Homo sapiens: one gene and its partner. The protein of the gene in region 1 interacts with the protein of each later gene in a pairwise test. Each region holds a gene or a part of one and is shown in the gene's direction. Other genes may lie near its edges.

The links. Proteins that work in one complex are often made in the same cells at the same time.
Region 2: the proteins of SUCLA2 (region 1) and TNFRSF10D interact in binary tests that used the Homo sapiens proteins (3 or more experiments, as listed by UniProt).

What each region holds. Positions count from the first base shown.
Region 1 is NC_000013.11:47,942,273-47,949,311, reverse strand, and holds the end of SUCLA2 (succinate--CoA ligase [ADP-forming] subunit beta, mitochondrial precursor), read left to right. Parts: intron 1-283; coding exon 284-372; intron 373-5,866; coding exon 5,867-5,941; 3' UTR 5,942-6,656; downstream 6,657-7,039. UniProt on the Homo sapiens protein: ATP-specific succinyl-CoA synthetase functions in the citric acid cycle (TCA), coupling the hydrolysis of succinyl-CoA to the synthesis of ATP and thus represents the only step of substrate-level phosphorylation in the TCA.
Region 2 is NC_000008.11:23,140,011-23,147,049, reverse strand, and holds part of TNFRSF10D (tumor necrosis factor receptor superfamily member 10D precursor), read left to right. Parts: coding exon 1-89; intron 90-1,128; coding exon 1,129-1,382; intron 1,383-1,960; coding exon 1,961-1,992; intron 1,993-2,414; coding exon 2,415-2,600; intron 2,601-7,039. UniProt on the Homo sapiens protein: Receptor for the cytotoxic ligand TRAIL. Contains a truncated death domain and hence is not capable of inducing apoptosis but protects against TRAIL-mediated apoptosis. Reports are contradictory with regards to its ability to induce the NF-kappa-B pathway.

The sequences.
Region 1 (7,039 bases):
TATACTTTTGCTTGGTATAATTTGATACACTTTTTATTTGTTGTGATTTGTCTTGAATTCTGACTTGCCTGAATTACTAAGCAAGTCAGAATTATTGTAAGGCAAAATATTTTATAAGATAACCTGGGCTTTTACAGTGTTTTCTTTGGTTTAGAAGTGTTTATACTAAATAATGGAAGTCTCCTCTGTTGAGGTTTTATTCTTATACCATGTTTTGGCAAACATTTTAAAATGCTTTTGTGTGTGTATTTAAAACATTTATATTTGCATAAATCATTTACAGGTACACGAGTCGATGATGCTAAGGCACTGATAGCGGACAGTGGACTTAAAATACTTGCTTGTGATGACTTGGATGAAGCTGCTAGAATGGTAAATTGGCCATGTTCATCTAAGGAGGATTTATAAACACAGATTCTAAAATGAACCTAATTATTAATACAGCTAATAATTTGTGTTTCAGCTAAATATTATGAGTGTAATGAATGGTTAAAGAAAACGATTATTCATGACTCTTGCTGAAAGATGTTAAGGCAGACTTTATTCAGAGGGACTGTTGCAATAAGCATAGAGACTACTGCAGTGGAGTTTTGCAGTAGGGGAGAAAGATTGGGCCCAACTCCAAATACAGCAAGGAAAAGTGGGAATTTATAACCAAGGAAGAGGGTCGGGGCAGTGGATGAAAAATTACTAAAAGGATACATTATGGGTAAGGGAGGATCCTGGCTAAACTGACTTAAGCAAGATTCTTGGTAAAATTGGACTATGCAGGGACAAATACAGAAGTCCAAAAGTTAGGGCCAAGTTGAGAAGAGAGTTCAGAGTAGCCTTTGGGAGGCTGAGGCAGGAGGATTGCTTGAGTCCAGGAGTTTGAGACTAGCCTGGGCAACATAGGGAGACCCTATCTTCACACATGTGCGCACACACACATGCACGCACACACACATGCACGCATATGTATGTATGTGTGTGTATCTATCTATATATTCGATAAATATATATTGAAAAAACAAAAGAGAGTTTGGTCAAGGAGAGAATCTTTGTCAGAACGTCTTATATCTGTGATCATCTTAAACAACGGTCAGCTCCTGCCCAATCTTGTTTGTTGTTTTGTCTGTATTCTTACTTCCTCCCACAACTGTGATTATTTTCAAGCAAATCCCAGACATTATATCATTTCATACATTTCATCATGCATCTGTAAAAGATAAAGGTATTGATAATGGTATAAAAAAATTACTGTTACTTGTTTTAGGTGGGGTAATGGTATTATGGTTATGTTTTATAAAAATACAGTCTGTTGAAATTTCTGAGTCTCTTATATCTTTTGTTTAAGTTCTTTGTAAGGGTCAGAATAAGTCTCTGCATTGTAGTTGGTTAATATGTCAGTAAGTTTCTTAATCTGTTGGTTTCCCCTTTTAAAAAGAAAAGTATTTTCTGTGGTTTATTTGTTGAAAAATCCAGGTTGATGGTCTTGTTAAGTTTCTCATAGTCTGGATTTTAATGGTTGCATCTTTAGGCTGTCATTCATTTACTGTGTTCTCTGCCCTCTCTGTGTTCTCTGCCTTGTGTATTTCCTGTAAACTGGGAGTTCAGTCTGTAGGCTTGACCATATTCATATTTGATTTTGGGGAGCAGGGAACAAGAATATTTCATAGTAGGTGTTTAATTTCATCAAAACGTATACAATGTTAATCTTTTTGTGGTATTACTAGCCATTGACATCATAGCTTAGATCCAGTATTTTGTTTGTGTTGCAAAGCGTTGCTATTGTAATTCTGTCATTCTTCACTTATTATATGTAATGCTTCTAAAAAGTAATACTTCCACGTGTCAACCATTTGTTACCATGGAGTACATTTTGCATAGGAAAAGTAGGATAATTACCTGATTATTTGCCTTTATTGACCAATTTTCAAAATAATGTTTGTTCTATTATGTCCAATAAAGGTGACCTAGGGTTTTTTTTGTTTTTTGTTTTTTTTGTATTTTGTTTACTTTTTGTTTTCAGGTGTGTGTGTGTGTGTGTGTGTGTGTATTGTGCGTGTGTGCATACACATGCATACACATGTGTGTTCCACTGGCATACTGTTTTGAACTTATGACTTAAAACATTGATGTAGTTCAGTTCATGTAAGTTGTGATTGAAATTGTCCAACCTTTGGTCTTTGGGAACCTCTTCAGGTTAACTGTTGCATCCTTCTGAGAAGCCCTCTATCTGGTATGATAAAATGTTTCAGGCTCATCTTTACGTTTCTTGAGTCAGAACTTGAATGGGCCAAATGGTATTTAGAGAGCACAATTTGGCCTTATGAGTATTCATAGATACTGGGTTGATTATTGTTTCTGAGCTTTTTAAGTGGCAAGTCTGAGAAAACATGTATTTTTTAAAGAGGTAATACTTGAGTTCATACTGATATTTTCAATGCAAGTCCAGGAGTATAGATTTTTTTTTCTTATCTGACATCTGTTTGTACCTTCGTTCATGCCATACTATCATAATTATTCATTTGCTTTGTCCCTTAGTACAGATATGACAGTTTTATAATAAGAATACCAACAGTCTGATTACTGAAAGCAATTATATCTGCATTTCTTTCTGTCCTTTAGGGTATGTCCCACAACTTAGTGGATTTTAAAATTCATGTGAAATAATTCTCTGTGTGTTTTGTCTCAGCTTTGTATAGTTTCATTGTTTTTAAAGGGATTGCTTTTTTTAAAAAAAAAAAAACACAACCTTTTGTTTTTTATTTTGTATTTACATGATTCCAAAGTGGAAAGTATAGAACAAGGTATTATCAGGGAATCTAGCTTTTATATATTTCCCTCTTTACTTCTTCCCCAACAGGCAACCTTTTTACCTTTTTTTTTTGTTTGTTTTTTAAGAAAGTTTTGGTTTATCTTTCCACTTCTTAAAAACATAAGCTAATTGTATGTATATAACTATATGTATGTGTGCAGTAGTCCCCCCTTATCTGCAGGGAATGTGTTGCAAGACCCCTAGTGGGTGCCTGAATCACAGATAGTTCCAAACCTGTATATACTGTGCTTCTTCCTGTACATATATTCCTTTGATAAAGTTTATGTATTAGACATAGTAACAGATTAACAACAACTAATAATAAAGTAGAACAATTATAACAATATACCGTGATAAATGTGAATGTGGTCTCTCAAAATATCTTATTGTTCTATACTCACCTTTGTGGTGATAATGAGATGATAAAATGCTTACTTGGTGAGATGAACTGAGGTGAATGATGAAGGCATTGTGACATAGTGTTAGGCTACTACTGACCTAATGATGTAACAGAAGGAGAATCATCTGCTTTGGTTCATCCTGGATCATTGAGCCATGATGTTGATTGTTGGATGTCAAGAGTAGATAATGTTGATGACTAATGGAAGAGTAGTTTATACAGCGTGGATACGCTGGGCAAAGAGATGGTTCACATTCCACTTGGAGCAGGATGGTGCAAGATTTCATCACACTTCTCAGAACAACACACAGTTTAAAACTTAATGACTTTTTTATTTCTGGAATTTCTCATTTAAAATTTTTGGACCACAGTTGACTGCAGGTAACTGAAACTGTAGAAAGTGAAATTGGATAAGGGGGGGACTTTGTGTGTGTGTGTGTGTGTGTGTGTGTGTGTGTGTGTGTGTGTCTCCCTTTTCCCACTTTAGATTAATGGTAATCTATACTTTGTTTCTTTTACTTAACAATAATGTGTATCAGAGAACACTTCATAGTAGATACAGAGAGATGAGAATTTTTTGTCTTCCCTTCCATTATGTTTATAGACATTTCATTGAACACTCGAACACTCTTTGGGCTCTATAGCTTAATCAATAGTAGATTCTTGATTTTTTTTTTTTTTTTTTTTTTGAGACTGAGTCTTGCTCTGTCACCTAGGCTGGAGTACAGTGGCGTGATCTCAGCTCACTGTAACCTTTGCCTCCTGGGTTTAAGCAATTCTTGTGTCTCAGCCTTCTGAGTAGCTGAGACTACAGGTGTGTGCCACCACGCCCAGCTAATTTTTTTTTTTTTTTTTTTTTTTTAAGACAGAGTTTTGGTCTTGTTGCCCAGGCTGGAGTGCAGTGGTGTGATCTCGGCTCACTGCAACCTCCATCTCCCAGGTTCAAGCAATCCTCCTGCCTCAGCCTCCCAAGCAGCTGGGATTACAGGCATGTACCACCATGCCTGGCTAATTATGTATTTTTAGTAGAGATGCGGTTTCACCATGTTGGTCAGGCTGGTCTTGAACCCCTGACTTTGTGATCCACCTGCCTCGGCCTCCCAAAGTGCTGGGATTCAGGTGTGAGCCACTGCGCCCAGCCTTGTATTTTTAGTAGAGATAGGGTTTTGCCATGTTGACCAGGCTGGTCTCGAACTCCAGACCTCATATGATCCTCCCACCTCGGCCTTCCAAAGTGCTGGGATTACAAGCATGAGCCCCCAGGCTTGGCCAGACTCTTGAATTTACCGAGTTAATGTGATGTCATTTCACAAAAATAATAAAAGTCTTATGTCCTTCTTTGGGAAAGTACTTACTAGTAAACAAAATTTAACTCTAGCTTGGAGACAGAAGAATTTAAACTTAAACCTGAATTAAAAATAAAGAATTTGAGCAAGGGAATAGTAGGAGAAAGTATTTCAGAAAGCCTATTTTGACTTTGAGATGTGGGATATATTGAAGGGAAAAGGGGAGAGATAGTAGGAGTCCATCTAGTGCAATACTTAGATATGAGAAAAGGTGAAGGTAATAAATAGGTTATAACTTGTCTCTGAAAGTGCACTTTTTTGGAATGAAAACTTAAATTAAGAAAAGCTTGGAGGACATGAAAAGAAGGAGAAGAACCAGTAGGACCTTGATCAAATAGATCATGAGAGGTAAAAGTGAACAGTTGATTTAAATTATGACTACAGTGTTTTTATTGACTGGGAGATTATAGAAGTCATAACAATAATAATATTGAATGAGATGATGATGATATTAGCAGTTACTACTGTTTATTGAGTGTTTACTGTGCATGCAATGCTAAGCTGTTTTCTTCAAGGATTATCTCATTTAATATGAATTTGGTGATAAAATTTCCATTTTTATAGATGAAGAAACAGGCTAGATAAGTTAACTTATTCAAGGTTGTATGTCATAAGCATCAGAGGGGGGATTTGCAGCCAAAGATATCTAACTTCAAAGCCTTTTCTTAACTAATTTACTGAGGAAGAGAGAAGCTGAGTTTGTTTTTTTGGTCTTAGACATGTCTAAATTTGTATGATGTTTTGTATGGTAACTGGTGGATATTTTTAGACAGATTGTAGAGAGAATTGGAACTCAGGTTAGCAATTGTTAACTTACTGACAAAAAGTAAAATACTAACTAGTAGACCCAAATTTCTATCCCAACATTTTAAGTTAAGATTGTATACTTATTTCAAAACAAATTTTTACTTAGATGTGCTTTGAGTTGTGGAGTATCCAACAAAGACACTCACTGTTTCTGTCTTTAAGATAAAATTTAGAATAATATATATATATATACACACACACACACACACACACATACATACACACACATTTTATACACACATATATAATCTTATGTAATACATATGTGTAATCCTAGCAGGTGGTATAACATCTTAATCAGAAAGTATTTAATTGAAGTTTGGACTATGAGGAGTGTCAGACTTGATTATCCTTTGAGAATGTCATTTGCTTATAAGAACGTAATGTGATTTATAGCAATGTCAGAATAGTCCAGATGTTTTAAATGGAAAAAATTGAGTGTACATTAATTTTGCACTGACCTGTAGTTCTGAATTTACCTTTTTGTGAAAATTCTTCGTTCTTTTCTTTTAGGTTGTAAAGCTCTCTGAAATAGTGACCTTAGCGAAGCAAGCACATGTGGATGTGAAATTTCAGTTGCCAATATGATCTGAAAACCCAGTGGATGGCTGAAGGTGTTAAATGTGCTATAATCATTAAGAATACTGTGTTCTGTGTTATTGTTCTTTTTCTTTTTAGTGTGTGGAGATTGTAATTGCCATCTAGGCACACAAACATTTAAAAGGATTTGGACTGCATTTAATTGTACCATTCAGAATGGACTGTTTGTACGAAGCATGTATAATGCAGTTATCTTCTTTCTTTTGTCGCAGCCAGTCTTTTTTGCTTCTCCTACAAAACGTAACTTGCAATTTGCCAGTTTATTATTGTTGGATACAAAGTTCTTCATTGATAAGAGTCCTATAAATAAGATAAATACGAAGATAAAGCTTTATTCTTTAGTGTTAAAATACAGTATATCTAATAACTAGCCTCATTAGTAGAGCAGTATATTAAAACAATGTTTTATGTAAAAAGTGTTTATCTTCAGCACCAAATACATGATAAATGTATCAATCACTATTTATAAACAGAGCTTTCAAACACTCCTCAGAATATTCTTCTAAGTATTTTGATGAAGTAACTTTGTAATTATTTGAACATTGTTTTAATCATTAGGAAACACTGATTAACTGCAAGTCTTCATGATTCTGTCATATTAAGAAACACCTGTAGGTTTGCTTCAAATAAAGGCATATATACCAAGGACTTACAGACAAAATTAAGAATGTCAATTTAAGTTAATAAAAATCTCCCAATATGATTTGGGTTCATGGCTTTTGTTTGCTTGTTTTGAGGTAAACACAGTAGAAGTTGATTTGTTCGTTATTGCAGTATAGAGGTCTAAGCACCAATTCTTAGATCATATACTTGCCATGACAGTGATTTGTTTTTTTTTTTGAGTCAGGGTCTCACTCTGTCACCCAAGCTGGAGTGCAGTGGTATGATCATGCTCACTGCAACCTCTGCCTCCTGGGCTCAAGCAGTCCTCCCACCTGAGCCTCCTAAGTAGCAGGGACTACAGGCACACACCACAAAAAAACATATGTGTTTTTTTTTGTTTTTGATTTTTGTTTTTTTTTTGGTAGGGACAGGGTATCACTATGTTGCTTAGGCTGGTCTCTTACTCCTGAGCTCAAGCAATCC
Region 2 (7,039 bases), on another chromosome or scaffold:
ACCACGACCAGAGACACCGTGTGTCAGTGTGAAAAAGGAAGCTTCCAGGATAAAAACTCCCCTGAGATGTGCCGGACGTGTAGAACAGGGTAAGACAGCAGCCAGGGGCTCCCAACAGCTTTCAGGAACCTGAAAAGACCTGATTCACCTGGTACCTCTATCTCTCCGCTGACCCCATGGATCCTCCAGGCCCGAGGCCTCCCTGAGCCTGTGGGGTTTCCTGAGCCTGCGTTGGCCCCTCCTGGTCCATCTGCCTGTCCCCACCCCTACCCCCTGCAGCAGCCCCTTCCCATACCCTCCCCAGCAGGAGTCCCTTTGTCCAGGCTGAATTGTTCACTGGGCACAGGAGGTGACTTTCTAGGTCCCTTGAACCTTTTCAGGCAACCTAGGAAATGTAATTTCCTTTTGAAATCAGAAGAAAACACTTGAATCCAGCCTGGCTTGTATTTTTCCTTACTCTAAGTTGGTTTAAAAAATGTAATTTTTAATATTTTTTATGTGGGCAGGGACCCATAAAGACAAAAGTGTCCGTAGCCCACAAAAGTCATAATAAGGCCATGGGTGGAGCTCCCTTAAGTTCCCATGAGGACCTGAGCCCACCCAGCCGGCCTCACCCCTGGCCCCCGATTTCTCACTAAGTCCTTCTTTATCCTATTTGGGTTTTAGGGGCAAAGAGTAACTTGCTCTTCTCTGGCCCTCCAGTGTTTGCTGTGGTTGGGAGGAACCAGCGGCAGACAGGGTGGGGCGAGGACTCACTTGTACTGTGTGTTAACTGGAGGAAGGGGCTCAGCTTGTGGCCACAGGGGCTTGTGATCTTCCCCTGGAGTGCGGCTCCTCCTAACGCAGGCCTCCCCTGCAGCCCAGGGAAGCTCAGTGTGTGCCCAGCACAGAAGGCTCCTGGATCTACAGCTCTGACCCCAGAGCAGGGAGGCCGAGGGGCTGAAGTGTGCATGCTCAGACCCTTCCCCAGCCTCAAGAAGGGAGCACAGGGGGACCCACTGCTGACACGAGGAGCCTGTCCTCCTGACGCCTTCTCAGGGACTTTGGGCAGGGAGGGTGGCTCCTCTTTCATCCCACCTGGCCAGCTTTCCATCAAGAGTCCCTGTCTCCCTCTCTGTGTGTACCCAGGTGTCCCAGAGGGATGGTCAAGGTCAGTAATTGTACGCCCCGGAGTGACATCAAGTGCAAAAATGAATCAGCTGCCAGTTCCACTGGGAAAACCCCAGCAGCGGAGGAGACAGTGACCACCATCCTGGGGATGCTTGCCTCTCCCTATCACTACCTTATCATCATAGTGGTTTTAGTCATCATTTTAGCTGTGGTTGTGGTTGGCTTTTCATGTCGGAAGAAATTCATTTCTTACCTCAAAGGCATCTGCTCAGGTAGGTGCTGGCTGAGGGTGGGAGCGCTGGGCACTGTCTGCCCTGCCCTCTCCCACTCCGTTCCCACAGACAGTAATCCCCATCCCTGCCCCTGGTCCAAGCGTCTCCAGCCTGGCTTGGTCTTCCTTCTTGTGATCGCCCCATCCCCACGTCCTGTGTATCCCCAAGGACCCTGGTCTCATCAGTCCCTCTCTCAGGGCTGGGGGACCCCTCATCTCCCGGAGCCAACTCCAGGAGGGCAGGGCCAGTTCCTCCTATCTTCAGGCCCAGCCAGGCAGGGGGCAGTCAGCTCCTCAACTGGGTGACAAGGGTCAGGATGAGAAGTGGTCGTGGGATTTATTCAGCCTTGGTCAGAGCAGAACACAGAGATTTTCCACGTGTTGGTTTTTACTCTAGTTCCCCTTCTCATCCCCCTTCCTCAGGGTGTCCCCTAATTGCAAGGCCCCATTCTGTCCCCAGCCCCAGGGCTCCTTGTCCAGTGTCCCAGCCCCCAGCCAGCCCTGCGCCCCACTGTCCTCTGGGAGGGAGGTGCTGCATGGGCCCCTCCCCGCCTGCTCAGGAGACTGCTTCTTTTCCAGGTGGTGGAGGAGGTCCCGAACGTGTGCACAGAGTGAGTTGGTTTCTCCAGAAACTGGGGGCTTCGTGGGTTCAGGAACTGCTTCCCATCCACTGCCGAGCCTGGGTGGGCACAATCCCTTGTCCTCATGGCTGCCCTGACTCTCTGACATGGCCTGGGGGATCTGGGCTGACTGTGGGGGACACACGGCCATTTTGAGCAGCACACAGACCAGCAGGCCGTGCTGCAGCCCTGTCCTTCCTGCAGCCTCGGTGACACCATCACTCCACAGCTGGCCCCATGGGGATGGGGTGACCACCTGACCCACCTCAGCATGGGGTCCTGGATGTGCTGAGCCTCAGCTGCCTGGGGTGACCTCATTGGAAGGGGTTGGGGATGGCAGGTCCAGCTGTGTACTGGGGACCCTGAAGCTGAGCCCGGGGTGTGGACTTGAGTGGGCTCTTTGTCTTCCCAAGGTCCTTTTCCGGCGGCGTTCATGTCCTTCACGAGTTCCTGGGGCGGAGGACAATGCCCGCAACGAGACCCTGAGTAACAGATACTTGCAGCCCACCCAGGTCTCTGAGCAGGAAATCCAAGGTCAGGAGCTGGCAGAGCTAACAGGTGTGACTGTAGAGTTGCCAGAGGAGCCACAGCGTCTGCTGGTGAGTTGAGGAGGGACTGTGCCCTGCCTGGCGTGCAGCCTGCACAGGACTTTGTAGACAGTGGGACATGGCAGTGCCTCCTCTTTCCTGGCCCAAGGGGACATGGAGCCTTTGGGAGACAGGGGACTGCAGGGGACGGAGCAGCTGCACTGAGGTGGTGACCGTGCCAGTCTGCAGGACATCTGCTTCTTACTCCCTGTCCTGTCCTTGCTGTGTCCCCAGAGCCTGGATCTCCACAGGCATAGAGTGGGTGTCACAGGGTTCACTGAGGACTGAATAAGGCTGCACAGTCTCCATCGTGTGCTCCTAACAGAAGTCAGGGAGCCCTTGCTTGAAACAGCGGAAGTTTTAAATGTTCTTCAAAATTCTTACTACATTGAACATATTTCACAGTAAATCTTTGTCCAGATTTCTGATCAAGTATGTAAGGAGGCTTCTGGGAAGAAGTAGGATTTCTGAGTCAGTGTGTAGAAGTGCTTTTGTATTACAGAAACACACACATCCAGTTATTCACATCGATTCACTAGTTTTGATATGACATTGAGTAGGTGTGAAATCTGGACACACATTTGTTTTTTTTTAAGTTCTTTCCTTCAGGATAAAATAAGATGATCCTACCTAATTTTTTGTGGACTTTTAAAGAATGATTTGGTTTGTAGCATACACCAGTGGAACGTAGGTGCCATTTCTTTTGTGATGCTGTGTGAAGTGAGGAATTCCCTGAATTGTTGTGAGTCACTGTCTCCTTCCTCCACGCCTGTTTAGGAACTGATTCTCCTATTTTTCTCTGCTTTTGGCTCCTCTTTGATCACTTGTCAAATACTTACCTAGACAAGGTTCACTTTCCACCCATTTTCTTCCTTTCCTATAACTATACCCCATTTTTTTTAATGAAGGGAAGTATAAAAAGGTAAGGAAATAAACAAAAAATATCAACAATTACTCCACGCTGCTGAATCGCATTGCACCTTTGTTTTGTAATTTGTAGAGATCTGATCTTGCTATGTTGCCCAGGCTGGTCTCAAACTCCTGGCCTCAAGTCATCCTCTCACCTTGGCCTCCCAAAGTGGTGGGATTACAGGCATAAGCCACTGCACCTGGCCGCGCTGCACATTTTTTGAAAGTGGTAAATGCAGAGCCACACATCTGCCACACTATAGAAAGGTGCTCAGTCGGCCGGGCGCCGTGGCTCATGCCTGTAATCCCAGCACTTTGGGAGGCCGAGGAGGGTGGATCACAAGGTCAAGAGATGGAGACCATCCTGGCCAACATGGTGAAACCCCACCTCTACTAAAAATACAAAAAATTAGCCGGGCGTGGTAGCGGGTGCCTGTAGTCCCAGCTACTCGGGAGGCTGAGGCAGGAGAATGGCGTGAACCCGTGAGGCGGAGCCTGCAGTGAGCCGAGATCACGCCACTGCACTCCAGCCTGGGCTACAGAGTCAGACTCCATCTCAAAACAAAAACAAAAACAAAAAAAAAACAAAGGTGCTGAGTCATAGTGGTAGTCCCCTAACACTTCCTCCAGCCCCCAGCCCTTCTTCATTCAGGTGAATACAACAGATAATTTCTTGTGATTCTTTGTAGAAATCTTTATGCATATGCCATGTATATTCATACAAGCGTATGTACATTTTGTTTACATTACAGGGATTACTTTACATATAATACACTGCCAAGGAAACTTTTTTTCATTTTTTATTTTTCCTTTTTCAAATTTATTTTGATTCAGGGGGTACATATGTAAGTTTGTTTGATGCTGAAATTTGAGGTATGAATGATTTTATCCAGGTTGTGGGCACAGTATCCAACAGTTAGTTTTTCACCCCTTCCTCCTCTCGCTCCCTCCCCGCCCTGGTAGTCCCCAGTGTCTATTGTTGCCATCTTTATGGTCGTAAGTACCTGATGTTTAGCTACTACTTATAAATGAGAACACGCAGTATTTGGTTTTGCGTTCCTACATTAATTCACTTAGGATGATGGCCTCCAGCTTCATCCATGTGGCTGCAAACAATATGATTTCATTCTTTTTTATGGCTGTGTGGTAACCTATGGTGTATATATGCCACATTGTCTTCATCCAATCCACTGTTGATGGGAACCTAGGTTGATTCCATGTCACTGCTATTATGGATAGTGGTGTCTTTTGGTAGAATGATTTGTTTTCCCTTTTTTTTTTTGAGAGGGAGTCTCGCTCTGTCACCCAGGCTGGAGTGCAGTGGCACAATCTCGGCTCACTGCAACCTCCGCCCCTCCAGGTTTAAGCAGTTCTCTGCCTCAGCCTCCAGAGTAGCTGGGATTACAGGCATGTGCCACCATACCCGGCTAATTTTTTGTATTTTTAGTAGAGACGGGGTTTCACCGTCTTGGGCAGGCTGGTCTTGAATTCCTGACCTCGTGATCCATCCACCTCGGCCTCCCAAAGTGCTGGGATTACAGGTGTGAGCCACCGCGCCCAGCAGATTTGTTTTCTTTTCTATGTATACCCAGTAGTGGGTTTGCTGTGTTAAATAGTAGTTGTTTTAAAATTCTTTGAGAAATCTCCAAACTCCTTTCCATACTGGCTGAACTAATTTACATTCCCACCAAAAGTATATAAATGATCCTTTTTCTTCATAGTCTCGCCAGCATTTACTGTTACTGGCTTTTTAATAATCGCCATTCTCACTGTATGAGATGGTATCCCACTGTAGTTTTGATTTGCATTTCTCTGATGATTCATGATGATGAGCATTTTTTCATATGTTTGTTGGCCACTTGTATGTCTTCTTTTGAGACATGTGTGTTCATGTCTTTTGCCCATTTTTAATGGGGTTGTTTTCTGTGTGTTCATTTAAGTTGCATATGGCTCCTGAATATTAGACCTTTGTCAGATGCATAGTTTGTAAATATTTTCTCCCATTCTGTAGGTTGTCTGTTACTCTGTTGATACTTTTTTTTTTTTTTGAGATGTACTCTCGCTCTGTCACCTAGGCTGGAATTCAGTGGCATGATCTCAGCTCACTGCAACCTCCGCCTCCCGGGTTCAAGTGATTCTCCCTCCTCAGCCCCCCTAGTTGCTGGGATTGCAGGCACGTGCCACCATGCCCAGCTAATTTTTGTATTTTTAGTAGAGATGGGGTTTTGTCTTGTTGGTCAGGCTGGTCTCGAACTCCTAACCTCAGGTGATCTGCCTGCCTCGTCCTCTCAAAGTGCTGGTATTATAAGTGTGAGCCCCCACACCCGGCCTGTGGAGAGTTTCTTCTGCTGTGCAGAAGGTCTTTAGTTCAATTAGATGCCACTTGACAATTTTTGTTTTTATTGCATTGCTTTTGAGGACTTAATCATAAATTCTTTGCCATGGCTGATGTCCAGAGGGGTGTTTTCTAGGTTTTCTTCTAGAATTCTTATAGTTCATGGTCTTACCTTTAAACTTTTAATCTACCTTGAGTTAATTTGTGTATATGGTGAAAAGTAGGGGTCTAGTTTTCGTTGTTCTGCATATGGCTAGCCAAATATCCGAAGCATCAGCTGTTGAATGGGGAGTTGTATTATTCCATTTTCATACTGCTATGAAGAAATACTTGAGACTGGGTAATTTATAAAGAAAAAGAGGTTTAATGGACTCACAGTTCCACATGGCTGGGGAGGCCTCACAATCATGGCCTGAGGTGAAAGATGAGCAAAGGCACATCTTACATGGCGACAGGCAAGAGAGCGTGTGCAGGGGACTGCTCTTTATAAAACCATCAGCTCTTGTGAGTCTTATTCACTATCACAAGAACAGAACTGGAAAAACCAGTCCACGTGATTCAGTTACTTCCAATAATTTTTTCCAATTCTGTGGAAAATGACATTGGTAATTTGATAGGAGTAGTATTAAATCTGTAGATTGATTTCAGCAGTATGCCCATTTTAGCCATATTAATTCTTCCAATCCATGAGCATGGAATGTTTTTCCATTTGTTCATGTTATCTATGATTTCTTTTAGCAGTGTTTTGTAATTCTCTTAGAGATCTTTCACATCCTTGGGTAGAGGTATTTCTAGGTATTGTGTGTGTGTGTGTGTGTGTGTGTGTGTGTGTGTGTGTGTGTCTGTTGTAAATGGGATTGTGTTATTGATTTGGTCCTCAGCCTGAACATTATTGGTATATAGATATGCTACTGATTTTTTTTCTTTTTGAGACAGAGTCTTGCTCTGTCACCCAGGCTGGAGTGCAGTGGCGCGATCTCAGCTCACTGCAAGCTCCACCTCCCAGGTTCACGCCATTCTCCTGCCTCAGCCTCCCCAGCAGCTGGGATTACAGGCGCACACTGCCACGCCTGGTTAGTTTTTTGTATTTTTAGTAGAGGTGGGGTTTCACCGTGTTAGCCAGGATGGTCTCGATCTCCTGACCTTGTGATCCGCCCTCCTTGGCCTCCCAAAGTGCTGAGATTACAGGCGTGAGCCACCGTACCCA